Linked DNA regions of Homo sapiens: all the other regions are linked to region 1. The links come from fine-mapping of genetic effects on gene expression. A gene starts in region 1. Each other region holds a variant in brackets. All regions are shown on one strand. Distances are between the middles of the regions.

Evidence for each region. PIP is the estimated chance that this variant, and not a neighbour inherited with it, causes the effect. A credible set is the group of variants that fine-mapping cannot tell apart.
Region 2: its variant is the best candidate, but not a certain one, in a credible set for the expression of DNAJA3 in whole blood (INTERVAL, PIP 0.84).
Region 3: its variant is the best candidate, but not a certain one, in a credible set for the expression of DNAJA3 in fibroblasts (GTEx, PIP 0.70).

The regions. Positions count from the first base shown.
Region 1 is chr16:4,423,465-4,427,590 of GRCh38, forward strand. It overlaps DNAJA3 (DnaJ heat shock protein family (Hsp40) member A3), which reads left to right and starts at 2,404. Exons shown (of 12, transcript NM_005147.6): 1 at 2,404-2,628. The coding sequence starts at 2,418. LOC124903635 (a long non-coding RNA gene) reads right to left here and starts at 2,325. Exons shown (of 3, transcript XR_007064963.1): 1 at 2,014-2,325.
Region 2 is chr16:4,451,567-4,455,692 of GRCh38, forward strand. DNAJA3 (DnaJ heat shock protein family (Hsp40) member A3) reads left to right here. Exons shown (of 12, transcript NM_005147.6): 11 at 3,245-3,361; 12 at 3,980-4,126. The coding sequence ends at 3,348. Among named protein-coding and RNA genes, the nearest start is that of NMRAL1, 21 kb to the right of the region's middle. The variant G/A (reference allele first, on the strand shown) is at 1,930.
Region 3 is chr16:4,444,737-4,448,862 of GRCh38, forward strand. It overlaps DNAJA3 (DnaJ heat shock protein family (Hsp40) member A3), which reads left to right. Exons shown (of 12, transcript NM_005147.6): 8 at 2,150-2,278; 9 at 3,997-4,112. Among named protein-coding and RNA genes, the nearest start is that of DNAJA3, 21 kb to the left of the region's middle. The variant G/C (reference allele first, on the strand shown) is at 2,385.

The sequences.
Region 1 (4,126 bases):
CCGAGTAGCTGGGATTACAGGCATGCGCCACCACATCCAGCTAATTTTGTATTTTTAGTAGAGACAGGGTTTCTCCATGTTGGTCAGGCTAGTCTCGAACTGCTGACCTTAGGTGATCCGCCTGCCTCAGCCTCCCAGAGTGCTGGGATTACAGGCGTGAGCCACCGTGCCTGGCAGGACCGGTGGTTTTTAATCTTCGAGTCTCAATGCCTGTGGAGAATTTGACGAAAGCTATGGGTATCTACCCAAATTAACATCCACGTACACAAAAATTTGGTGTACAATGCTGGGAGTAGCGGGGAGGGGGAGTAGCACAGATTCCCAGGCTTTGGGGATGGGGGTGAAGATTTATGAGCACAGTTTGTTTTAAATCCAAACAAGAATCCTCAGGTTTTTTCCCCATTGCTTGAGGTGGTTATGATGGTGGGAGTGTGAAAATTGAAAGTCCTTTGCAAGACTAACCAGGTCAGGTCTCCCTTCCTAGCCTCATCTCATCACATACTTTTTTTTTTTGAGACAGAGTTTCGCTCTTTTTGCCCAGGCTGGAGTGCAATGGCGTGATCTCGGCTCACTGCAACCTCCACCTTCCGGGTTCAAGCCATTCTCCTGCCTCAGCCTCCGGAGTAGCTGGGATTACAGGCATGCGCCACCACGCCCGGCTAATTTTGTATTTTTAGTAGAGACGGGGTTTCTCCATGTTGGTCAGGCTGGTCTCGAACTCCGGACCTCAGGTGATCCGCCCGCCTCGGCCTCCCAAAGTGCTGGGATTACAGGCGTGAGCCACTGCGCCCGGCCACCACTTCTTTTCTTTTTTTTTTTTTTTTTGAGATGGAGTTTCTCTTGCCCAGGCTGGAGTGCAGTGGCGCGATCTTGGCTCACTGCAACCTCCGCCTCCTGGGTTCAAGCGAGTCTCCTGCCTCAGCCTCCCGAGGAGCTGGGATTACAGGTGCGTGCTACCATGACTGGCTAATTTTTGTATTTTTCGTAGAGACGGGGTTTCACCATGTTGGCCAGGCTGGTCTGGCACTCCTGACCTCGTGATCCGCCGGCACCTCGGCCTCCCAAAATGCTGGAATTACAGGCGTGAGTCACCGCGACCGGCCTCATCACATACTCTTAAATTTAGGGTTTAAGCAAAGAAGGCAAACACTTTCATATCTTAGACATTTGTTTCTTAAGTTCAGGCTACTTGGAATACTCCATCCCTACCTGACACACTTTTCATCGATGTTCAGTTTGAATCTTACCTCTTAGAAGCCCTGACATCCCAAACTTCCTCTCTCCCATTTTAGAAATGGAATGACTCCTTCACCTTGTATGACTGTAACAGTGCTTATTCCTGTGATAGCATTTAACATTGTTAGTTGCTAAGGAGCCTCTCTCGAGTCATTGTTTGCTCCTCCCGAACAGGGATGGTGTATCAGGCATCACTGTATCCCCGATATTCTAGAACATGCATGACACACAGTAGGCGCTCACAAGTTTTACTAATTTAGTTTTTGGGCAGCACGGCTCCCATTCGGAACCAGCAAGTTCACTGCAGGTTTGGAGAAGGCTAACACGCTTAAGGAGAGAGCTGAGGTCGGCGCGGTGGCTCTCGCCTGTAATCCCAGCACTCTGGGAGGCCGAGACGGGTGGATCACGAGGTCAGGAGTTCAAGACCCAGCCTGGCCAAGATGGTGAAACCCCGTCTCTACTAAAAATACAAAAAAATTAGCCGGGCGCGGTGGCGCGCGCCTGTAATCCCTGCTACTCGGGAGACTGAGGCAGAGAATTGCTTGAACCCGGGAGGAGGAGGTTGCAGTGAGTTGAGATCGCGCCACTGCACTCCAGCCTGGCGACAGAGCGAGACTCTCTGTCAAAAAAAAAAAAAAGAAAAAAAGGAGAACTGAGTCTTGTTAGAGGAGGCGGGTGGGGAATCAGCCTAAGAGACAGTGAGACTGCGGCCAGGATTCTGAGGGTGGCGACGAAGATTTACTAGAAGCGCGCGGAGACGGCATGAGTAAAACTCACGCAATTCGTCGTAAGTCTCAGGGTCAGCAGGAGGAAACCACGCACTACATGCTGGGAGCGGCGCGACGGAGGACCGCGTTGTATGCTGGGACTTGTAGTCTCGCCCTTAGCCAGACCCCTCGGACCACTTAAGTTCGGCTACATTCAACCACGTCCTTACACCGATAACGTACACCCATTGGTTGTCTAGCACAGAATAGCGAGGTTCTGCACGGCGAGTCTACCTAACAACACTCTTCAGAGCAAACCCCGTTTCGGCGATGGCTACCCGGAAGGCGCGTTGGCTGCGGCTACGCGTACGGTGCGCCTGCGCGTGCGCGACGCATGCGCCTCTACGCGCGCCCGCCGTTCCCGCGAGGCCCACCTAGAGCCGGGCGGCGCAGGCGCAGAGTCCCCGGGCCAAGATGGCTGCGCGGTGCTCCACACGCTGGTTGCTGGTGGTTGTGGGGACCCCGCGGCTGCCGGCTATATCGGGTAGAGGGGCCCGGCCGCCCAGGGAGGGCGTGGTGGGGGCATGGCTGAGCCGCAAGCTGAGCGTCCCCGCCTTTGCGTCTTCCCTGACCTCTTGCGGCCCCCGAGCGCTGCTGACATTGAGACCTGGTGTCAGCCTTACAGGTGAGGGCAGGTTCCAACTTCCGAGTGGCGGTTTCAGGGCCTAGAAAAGAGTGAGTCTCCTCGCTGTGACTACGGCTGCAGGGGTAGTGGGGTGGAGGGTGTCTTCCGACGCGGATGCACAATTGCCGGAGACACAGACAGGCAGGAGGCGGGGAGGCCCCAGTGGCTGCTCAGCCGTCAAGGAAGGGAGAGAAGCGTGGAGCCCCCGGCGGCGGTGATGAAACGCCCCGTAGATCGTGAACCTTCACCTCTCTGTCAACATTTCTGGAGGCCGCTGCTCCCTCGTCCTCTTCCTTTCCCATCTCTCCACCTTCTAGCCCGTAGCGGAAGGGAAGAGCTAACTGCCATTCGGAGAGGCCTAGGTACTTTGTTACAACAACCCTGCAAGATGCCTGCCGTCATCACCATTTTAAAGAATGAGAAACTGAGATTCAACGGAGGAATCGACCAGCCCAAGGTCATGGAGTTAGACTAGAAGAGTTGTCTCAAACCCAAAGCAGTCATGTCATAGTTTACGCTCTTTCTACCACGTGGTGCTAATTGAAGGGCACAGTTAACAATCTTTTTAGAAGTCTTTAGTTGGTGATTGTAATAATAACACAGTCAGACATTTATTGAGCACTTACTGTTGGCCAGGCATGGTTTTCCCCTTACATCACATTTCCACATGATAGGCACTGTTATTCCATTTTATAAAGATACTGAGGCTTAGATGTTAAACCACTTATAAATGTCACAAGGAGGTGGAGGCTTGATATCATTGCCTGAGATGACACTGAATTATACATTAAGCCTTGAAGTGCTTAGTCATGTTTTCTTTTCTTTTCTTTTCTTTTTTTTTTTGAAACTGAATCTTGCTCTGTTGCCCAGGCCGGAGTGCAGTGGCTCAATCTCGACTCACTGCAACCTCCGACTCCTGGGTTCAAGAGATTATCCTGCCTCAGCCTCCCCAGTAGCTGGAACTAGAGGCATGCGCCACCACGCCTGGCCAATTTTTGTATCTTTAATAGAGACGGGATTTCGCCATGTTGGCCAGGCTGGTCTCAAACTCCAGACCTCAGGTGATCCGCCTCCCCTTGGCTTCCCAAAGTGCTGGGATTACAGGCGTGAACCACCGTGCCCTGCTTAGCCTTCTTTTCTTATGCCGTGTGTTTTGTGCTGTGTGTTGTACGTACCTGAATTGTGCTAGTTTTGTGTCCTCTAGAATTTGTGCAAATGGTATTTAAGCTATCTATAAATTTATAAAGATTAATTAAAGGGCCCTGACAAGATAATTTATACCAACTAACTTCCTGTTGCAATCCAGTTTGTAATAGTTACATAGTAGACAATCATTAAAGTATCAGTAATTGTGGTTACTTCATGCAATGTAAAGAAAAGAGCCTGGGCTTCAGGGGTGAACTTCCCCAGCGTCTGTGAGCGGGGTGTATTATTTAACCCCTTCGAGCACCTGTCTGAAAATTCATTCATTCACAGGTGTTAATTGAGGCCAATTGTA
Region 2 (4,126 bases), 28 kb after region 1:
GACAGCATGGCGAAACCCCATCCCTACTAAAAATACAAAAATTAGCTGGGTATGGTGGTGCATGCCTGTAATCTCAGCTACTCAGGACGCTGAGGCAGGAGAATCGCTTGAACCCAGGAGGCAGAGGATGCAGTGAGCCAAGACCACACCACTGCACTCCAGCTTGGGTGACAGTGAGACTCTCTGAAAAAAAAAAAAAAAAAAAAAAAAAGGGCCTGGCGCGGTGGCTCACGCCTGTAATCCTAGCACTTTGGGACGCCGAGGAGGGTGGATCACGAGGTCAGGAGTTTGAGACCAGCCTGACCAACATGGTGAAACCCTGTCTCTACTAAAAAAAAAAAAAAAATACAAAAACTAGCGGGGCATGGTGGTGGGCATCCATAATCCCAGCTACTCTGGAGGCTGAGGCAGGATAATTGCTTGAATCCAGGAGGCAGAGGGTGCAGTGAGCCAAGATTGCACCACTGCACTACAGCCTGGGTGACATAGCGAGACTCTGTCTCAAAAAAACAACAACAAAAAAGCAGCTGCCACAAAACTCTGTAGCCCAACCAGGTTCCAAATGTCACTTATTTTAATGGTTTGGTACATATACTGTGTATATGTATACTATCTTTTGTTCTTGTTGTATCTCTTGAACTAAAATAGAAGTGGTAATAGAGTAGCTATTCCCCGGAACTCTAATCAGTGCACCTGTGGCTTCTCCTTCCTCAAACCCTACAATCACATAACATGCGAGATTGGTTCCATAGACAGCTGTCCTTCCCTCCTCCCGCCCATCAGGGTAGCTTGAGGTGTGCTACGGCCGGGCCCTGGGTGGGTTCGTGGGTGTTGCTTACTCTGTTGGAGGTTGGGTATTACTGGTCACCAGTTGATGTTTTGACCCTCTCTCTGATACTGTAAGTTGAAAGTTGATTCCGCCACCCACTGAGATCCTTTGTCACTTCCATGGTTACTTGTCCTGATCACTCAGCCTCACTCAGCTGTTCCCTCACTCAGCCAGGATGTCTTCTCCTGTGTGCAAGACACTGTCAGCTCTTCCTTTTAAAGATCTTGGTGAGGCCGGATGCAGCGGCTCACACCTATAATCCCAGCACTTTGGGCGGCTAATGCAGGAAGATCACTTGAACCCAGGAGTTCGAGACCAGCCTGGGCAATATAGCGAGACTCTGTCTCTACAAAAAATTTCAAAACTAGCCAGGTGCAAAGTAGTATGCACCTCTATCACCAGCTACTTGGGAAGCTGAGATGAGAAGATCACTTGAGCCTTAGTACTCAAGGCTGCGGTGAGTCATGACAGCGACACTGTACTCCAGCCTGGGTGCCAGGGCAAGACTCTGTCCCTAAGCATACACCGTCACATGTCAGTCTGCTGCCTGTGGGTGGTTAAGTCTCTCATTATACTGTGAAGACAGTTAGTTTTGCATCCACATATGACAGTATTACAGGACATATAATTCTCATGTCCTAAGAACTTAAGCAACAGTGGGATTTATTTATTTATTTGAGGCAGAGTCTTGCTCTGTGGCCCAGCCTGGAGTGCAGTGGTGCAGTCATAGCTCACGGCAGCCTCAAACTCCTGGACTCAAGTGATCCTCCCACCTTGGCCTCCCAGAGTGTTGGAATTACAGACATGAGCCACTGTGCCTGACCAGCATAGTTTTTGATGCGTTTAGTATCTTAATGTAGCTGCTGAAAACCTTAAGAGCTGACCCCGGTCTCCCAGAAAGACCATGGTGTGCTTAGAGACTCAGCACTTGCAGGGATAAACAGGTCCATCTTCTGGCGAACAGAGAGGGAACTGGGGGGGCTTGCAATTACTATGTGACTTTTTGAGTGAGAGACACAGTATGGCTCCTTGTTGTTCTTTTTTTTTTTTTCTTTTTTTGGAGACGGAGTCTCACTCTGTCACCCGGGCCGGAGTGCAGT[G/A]GCGTGATCTCGGCTCACTGCAACGCACTCTGCCTCTTGGGTTCAACCAATTCTGCCTCAGCCTCCCGAGTAGCTGGGACTACAGGTGCATGCCGCCCCTGGCTAATTTTTTGTATTTTAGTAGAGATGGGTTTCACCATGTTCGAGGCCGGTCTCGAACTCCTGAGCTCAGGCAATCCGCCTGCCTTGGCCTCCCAAAGTGCGGGGATTACAGGCGTGAGCCACTGTGCCCGGCCTTTTCTTTTTTGAGACTGGGTCTCACTCTGTTTTATGTAGCCTCCCTCACCCCTTCCCGGGGACCTGTGGCCCCAAACTTTGGACCTTTCACTAGCGAAGGCACCTTCTTACTTAGACTGAGGCCTTTACTCTTTTATGCACTGTGCGTGGCCTAGGTCTCTGAGCACATTAAAAATGAGCTCTACAATTAACATGCCAAGTTCAGGTCTATATTCTAACTCACAACAAAAGTGTGCACTCCTTGTCTAGTAGTTGGCAAATCTGTAACACGTTTGTGTGAGAAAGTACCTCTAGATGGTGTCAGCCTGGGCCCTAAAGAAATTGCAGCACAGCTTCCCTAGGTTGAGAGCATTTAGGTTAGGTGCCCCAAATGGGGACAACTTGCTCAGGGAGATAGACTGCTGATGTGAGGGATGAGATGGAGTGCCTGTGACAAAGGATTGTGCGTGGCCGTGACTCCCACATGGGCTGTTCTGCAGGGTCTTTGCGCACACAGCAGCATGGAATCTGGCCAGTTGGTCTAGAGTAGGGTTTTTCTTGGCAGTCATTATTTACCTTCTTATAGCCAACAGCATGGTGGTTGAGTCTCAGCTTTGGAGTCAGACTGCATGGGCTCGCACTCAGTCCTCCCTCCCGCTTGTTGGCTCTGTGGCCTTGGGTAAACCCTGTAACCTCTCTGTGCCTCCTTTTTTTGTTTTTTCATCTGTGAAATTTGCCTGTAAGGAAGTGTATGGCCTGGCCTGGGAGGTGCCTGGCACTTGACTGTGTTTTTGTCACTGTTGCTCAGATAGAGACAGCTGTCATAGTCCGTCTCTATTTCTTGTTTCCCTGCTGTGGGTCCTTGATTGAAAGAGCAGTTGGGAGACCCTCAGGCTCTGAGTGGCCTGTTCACCTCAGTCGTCTGCAAGGTGAGGCATCCTGTGCCATCTTAGGAGTGGCCCCCACTCTTCTTGAGGTGGCACTTGGCCGCTTCTTGAACGTGGGCCCCTGGGTGGCCAGGCGGGGGTAGGTGGGCCCTGGGATGTGACTGTGGAAGTGCAGGCCCATGACGCCAGTTCTTTCTGCTGTTTGTGCCCAGGTGGCAGCACCATGGATAGCTCCGCAGGAAGCAAGGCTAGGCGTGAGGCTGGGGAGGACGAGGAGGGATTCCTTTCCAAACTTAAGAAAATGTTTACCTCATGATATCCCAGCCGAGGTAGGAAAACCCTGGAGGTTTTTTTTCCCTTTGTTTTCCTCTGTGAACTAATCCTGGTTTTCTCCCACTTTAACCAATATTGTGCCCCCACCCCCAGGAGTTGGAACAGGTGCCAGTCCAAGGTGTGGTAAACCTAGCTCCACTAGGAGCTGGCCTCTCAGCCTAGGGAATAGATGACGTGGCAATCAGCCTGTAGTGCAGGACTGGCTGGGCTGCCGCGGCCAGCCTCTGGCTGTGTCTTCTTCCTGGGGAGGTGGCGATGCTGGGGCTGTTGTACAGCCCCCCTGCAGTGGTGGGTCCGGCTTGCCCATGGTCACAGAGGGCGAGTCAGGCAGAGCCAGGCCTAGAACTCAGATCTCCTCACGTCCTGCCTGCTTGGAAGCTGCCCTCCTGCGTGGACAGCGCAGGGCTGTGCAAGCCTGGGGGCTGCTCCAGGGGTAGCGCTTGCTCGCCGTGTCATCTTGGGACCCACTTTGGTTTATTATGCTCATCTCAGCAAGTGGGGTTCTCGCCCCTCTCTTGGCACAGCTGCTTTCCAGGGATTAACAGACGCTCCCCACAGGGGTGTGTTCCCTTGAAATGTTGAGTATAAGGTAACAGCCTATCTCTTTGGCTCAGGAAAAAGATCCACTGGAAACTAGGCCGGGAAGCAGCAGCCCCTCCAAGGGCCAGGGCACCTGGGAGACGGGAGGATTCCAGAACAGCAGCACTGAGCTCCCACCCGCAGAGCCTCTGGACGGCCTTGGCAACAGCAAAATCATGGGA
Region 3 (4,126 bases), 21 kb after region 1:
CCTGCCCCGCACAGCTTCTGTTGGGCCTTTCCTCTCTTCGGGTGGGTGTGGCTGAGGCTGCTCCCATGTAATCAAAGCTTCACAGGAACATGTCTCGCCATTCATGTTTCTGAGGGGCACAGTGGCCACCTAGATGTGGTTTTTAGCTGTTTGTTACCTTCAAGATTCTGTGCCTTGTGTGGAGAGAAGACAACTTCTTCAACATGCTAACAAGTTAGAAATACAGGTCACATAAAAATACAGGAAACATCTTGTGTTTTTATGATAAGATTGTTGATGAGGCAGTGAGTGTGAAAGTTACAATTTTACATACTGTATACAGGGGCAAACCTTGGTTTTCTGAGATGGTGGAAACATTAATGAAGACAATGCCTTCTACTGGCAATTGCCCTCCTATGTGTACACCTGAGAAAAACCCACACAAGCCTAGCAGGCGATAGGTACAAAGGGGTGCACAAGAGTCCTGTCCATGGTAGCAAGACACTGCCTTCCTCCAACAAGAGAATGGCTCAGTGAGCCGTGGTGGTCAGAGGCTGCTGCAGGGCAGTCGGAAGGAAAGAATGAGAGCTGAACTCAAGGGATGCTCCAGGCGTTGCAGGTACAGACAGCAGGGATGGAAGGCAGCTTGCCAGTGGCTGTAGGGCCTCAGAGACCATCTGTGTAAAGTTTTAAAACCTGTGAGATGGCATTATGTATTATTTAGGGACACGGAAATACATAGTAAGTAGAAGCTTGTAGGAATGATAAATGTTAAAGTCAGGGTTGTGGTTAGCTGAGGAGGGCAAGACTCACCGGTGTTTATGATGTTTTATTTTATTTTACTTTATTTTTTGAGGTGGGGTATTGCTTTGTTGCCTAGGATGAAATGCAGTGGGGCAGTCTTGGCTCACTGTAGCCTCAGACTCCCTGGGCTCAGGTGATCCTCCCACCTCAGCCTCCTGAGTAGCTGGGACTACAGGCACACGCCACCAGGCCCGGCTGACTTTTGTATCTTTAGTAAAGATGAGGTTTCACCATGTTGCCCAGGGTGGTCTCAAACCCCAGGGCTCAAATGATCCACCCACCTTGGCCTCCCAAAGTGCTGGGATTACAGGTATGAGCCACTGCGCCCGGCCTGTGATATTTTGTTACCTCCACTGGGTTGTGGGTATGACATGCTTGTTATATTATTTACTCTTCCCTTTTTTTTCTTTTTTTTTTCTGGAAAGAGAGTCTTGCTCTGTTGCCCAGTCTGGAGTGCAGTGGCATGATCTCAGCTCACTGCAACCTCCACCTCCCAGGTTCAAGCGATTCTCTTGCCTCAGCCTCCTGAGTAGCTGGGACTACAGGCATGCGCCACTACACCCAGGTAATTTTTGTATTTTTAGTAGAGATGGGGTTTCACCATGTTGGCAGGCTGGTCTCGAATTCCTGACCTCAGGTGATCCACCCACCTTAGCCTTCCAAAGTGCTGGGATTACAAGCGTGAGCCACCACGGCTGGCCTATACTTTCTAATAAAGTAAGATTTTTTTTTTTTTTTTTTTGAGGTGGAGTCTCGCTCTGTTGCTCAGGCTGGAGTGCAGTGGTGTGATCTCTGTTCAGTGCAAACTTCATCTCCCAGGTTCAAGTGGATCTTCTGCCTCAGCCTCCTGAGTAGCTGGGATTACAGGGGCCCGCCACCACACCTGGTTAATTTTTGTATTTTTAGTAGAGACAAGGTTTCACCATGTTGGTCAGTCTGGTCTCAAACTCCTGACCTCAGGTGATCCACTCACCTTGGCCTCCCAAAGTGCTGGGATTACAGGTGTGTGCCACTGTGCCTGGCTAAAGTAAGATTAAAAAAAAAAAATCAAAAGCCAGTTTTACATTTTTGTTTCCCTTCACGATTGAATGGCTTGATCTGAGACTGAGGAAATCCAGGCACGCTTCCATTTCGGCATTTCAAGTGTGTAGAACATTGCAGTGTTGAAATATGTAGAACATGTCATTCCTGGGCCTGGGATGGTGTCTCCTTGTTGGAAGGACAGTTCTTTCCCTCAACACTGCACTTTATGTATGGAAGGGGTGTGTAGTTTGTCAGGTCTGAGCTTGGGCCTGGCCAGGCATGCAGCTGGTGTTTAGTCTGCAGTGGACTTATCTTCACATGCATCTGTCATGTTTGGCCTTAGGTGCAGAAAAGCCCTGTGTTCCGGAGGGACGGCGCAGACATCCACTCCGACCTCTTTATTTCTATAGCTCAGGCTCTTCTTGGGGGTACAGCCAGAGCCCAGGGCCTGTACGAGACGATCAACGTGACGGTAAGAGGGTGTGAGAACACCTTTGTCACCCCTGTACTTTATTGCTCTTTTTCTGAAATGGAAAAGAACTGACCAGTGGCCTGGAACCCATGAGTGACCAGCATGT[G/C]GGGGGGCACTCACAGGGGAGGACATGAGGAATTTTAGGCTGCTCCTTGAGTGTGGACCACAAGCCACAGGCCTTGAGTCTATAATCGCATGGGAAGCAGTTCCTGGCTGGCATCACTCCCACACTGGTTAGCGGGGCCTGGGAACTGGGCGCATTCAGGACACAGAAGGGTTCACCCTGGGTTGTGCTCTCTGCACTTGCTTCTGTCCAGTGTCTGGCTCCAAGAGCAGAAGACTCGGGCGGTGCATATCCCTTTTGCCACAGTGATGGCTGCCTGTGTGCTGCCAGCACCTGTCCCCCACCTCTCTCTTGACCTGCCCCTCCAGCTCTTCCCACCTCCAGGCCACATCATTCTCTGTATTCGCCTCAGAACCTTCTCCAGCTTCTTTGTGGGGAACCTTGGGGTAACCTCCATGAAGGAGGTGGGCATTTTGGGCCAAGGCTTTCTCCTCCATCTGGGGGCTATTCCCTGGCTTCTCCAGGGTCCTGTGGTTCCAAGGGCCAGGGAGCGACCTCAGCCACGCACCCTGTATTGGCTTTTCCTGCTTTGCTCCCTCACTCCTGCTTCCTGGGCTCACTTGCCCAAACTCTTGCCCCCTCATCCTAGTCACAGGCTCTGCTCTGGGCAGACCCAACTTAGCTCATTTCCATGTGCTTGTGGGCGGGCTTGGCCCAGAAACCCAAGTGGTGGTTCTTTTTTTTTTTTTGAGATGGAGTCTCGCTTTGTCGTCAGGTGCACGCCACCACACCTGGCTAATTTTTTGTATTTTAGTAGAGACAGGGTTTCACCGTATTTCCCAGGCTGGTCTTCAACTCCTGATCTCAGGCAGTTCACCCGCCTCGGCCTCCCAAAGTGCTGGGATTAAAAGGCGTGAGCCACTGCGCCCAGCCCAGTGGCAGTTCTTTTTTTTTTTTTTTTTTTTTTTTGAGACAGAGTCTTGCTCTGTCGCCAGGCTGGAGTGCAGTAGCGCGATCTTGGCTCGTGGCAATCTCCGCCTCCCAGGTTCAAGCGATTCCCACCTCAGCCTCCTGAGTACCTGGGCCTACAAGCACGCGCCACCATGCCTGGCTAATTTTTTGTATTTTAGTAGCGATGGGGTTTCACCATGTTGGCCAGGAAGGTCTCAATCACCTGACCTCGTGATCTGCCTGCCTCAGCCCCCCAAAGTGCTGGGATTACAGGCATGAGCCACTGCGCCCGGCCTTTTTTTTTACCCACCCCCTCCACCACCGCTCTGCCGAGACAGAGTCTTGCTCTGTCAGCCAGAGCTGGAGTGCAATGGCACAATCTTGGCTCACTGCAACCTCCGCCTCCCGGGTTCAAGCAATTCTCCTACCTCAGCCTCCTGAGTAGCTGAGATTACAGGTGCACGTTACCATGCCCTGCTGATTTTTGTATTTTTAGTAGAGACGGGGTTTCATCATGTTGGCCAGGCAGGTCTTGAACTCCTGACCTCGTGATCAGCCTGCCTCGACCTCCCAAAGTGATGGGAGCGTGAGCCAGTGGTAGTTCTTTTCAAGGAATTCCTATCAAGATTGTCTTCATGTAGTGAAAACTTTTTATTTGAGCAACTGGGGACCAGGGGAAACCACAGATTTTCTTTCTTTATAGATCCCCCCTGGGACTCAGACAGACCAGAAGATTCGGATGGGTGGGAAAGGCATCCCCCGGATTAACAGCTACGGCTACGGAGACCACTACATCCACATCAAGATACGAGTTCCAAAGTAAGTGCCCCCTA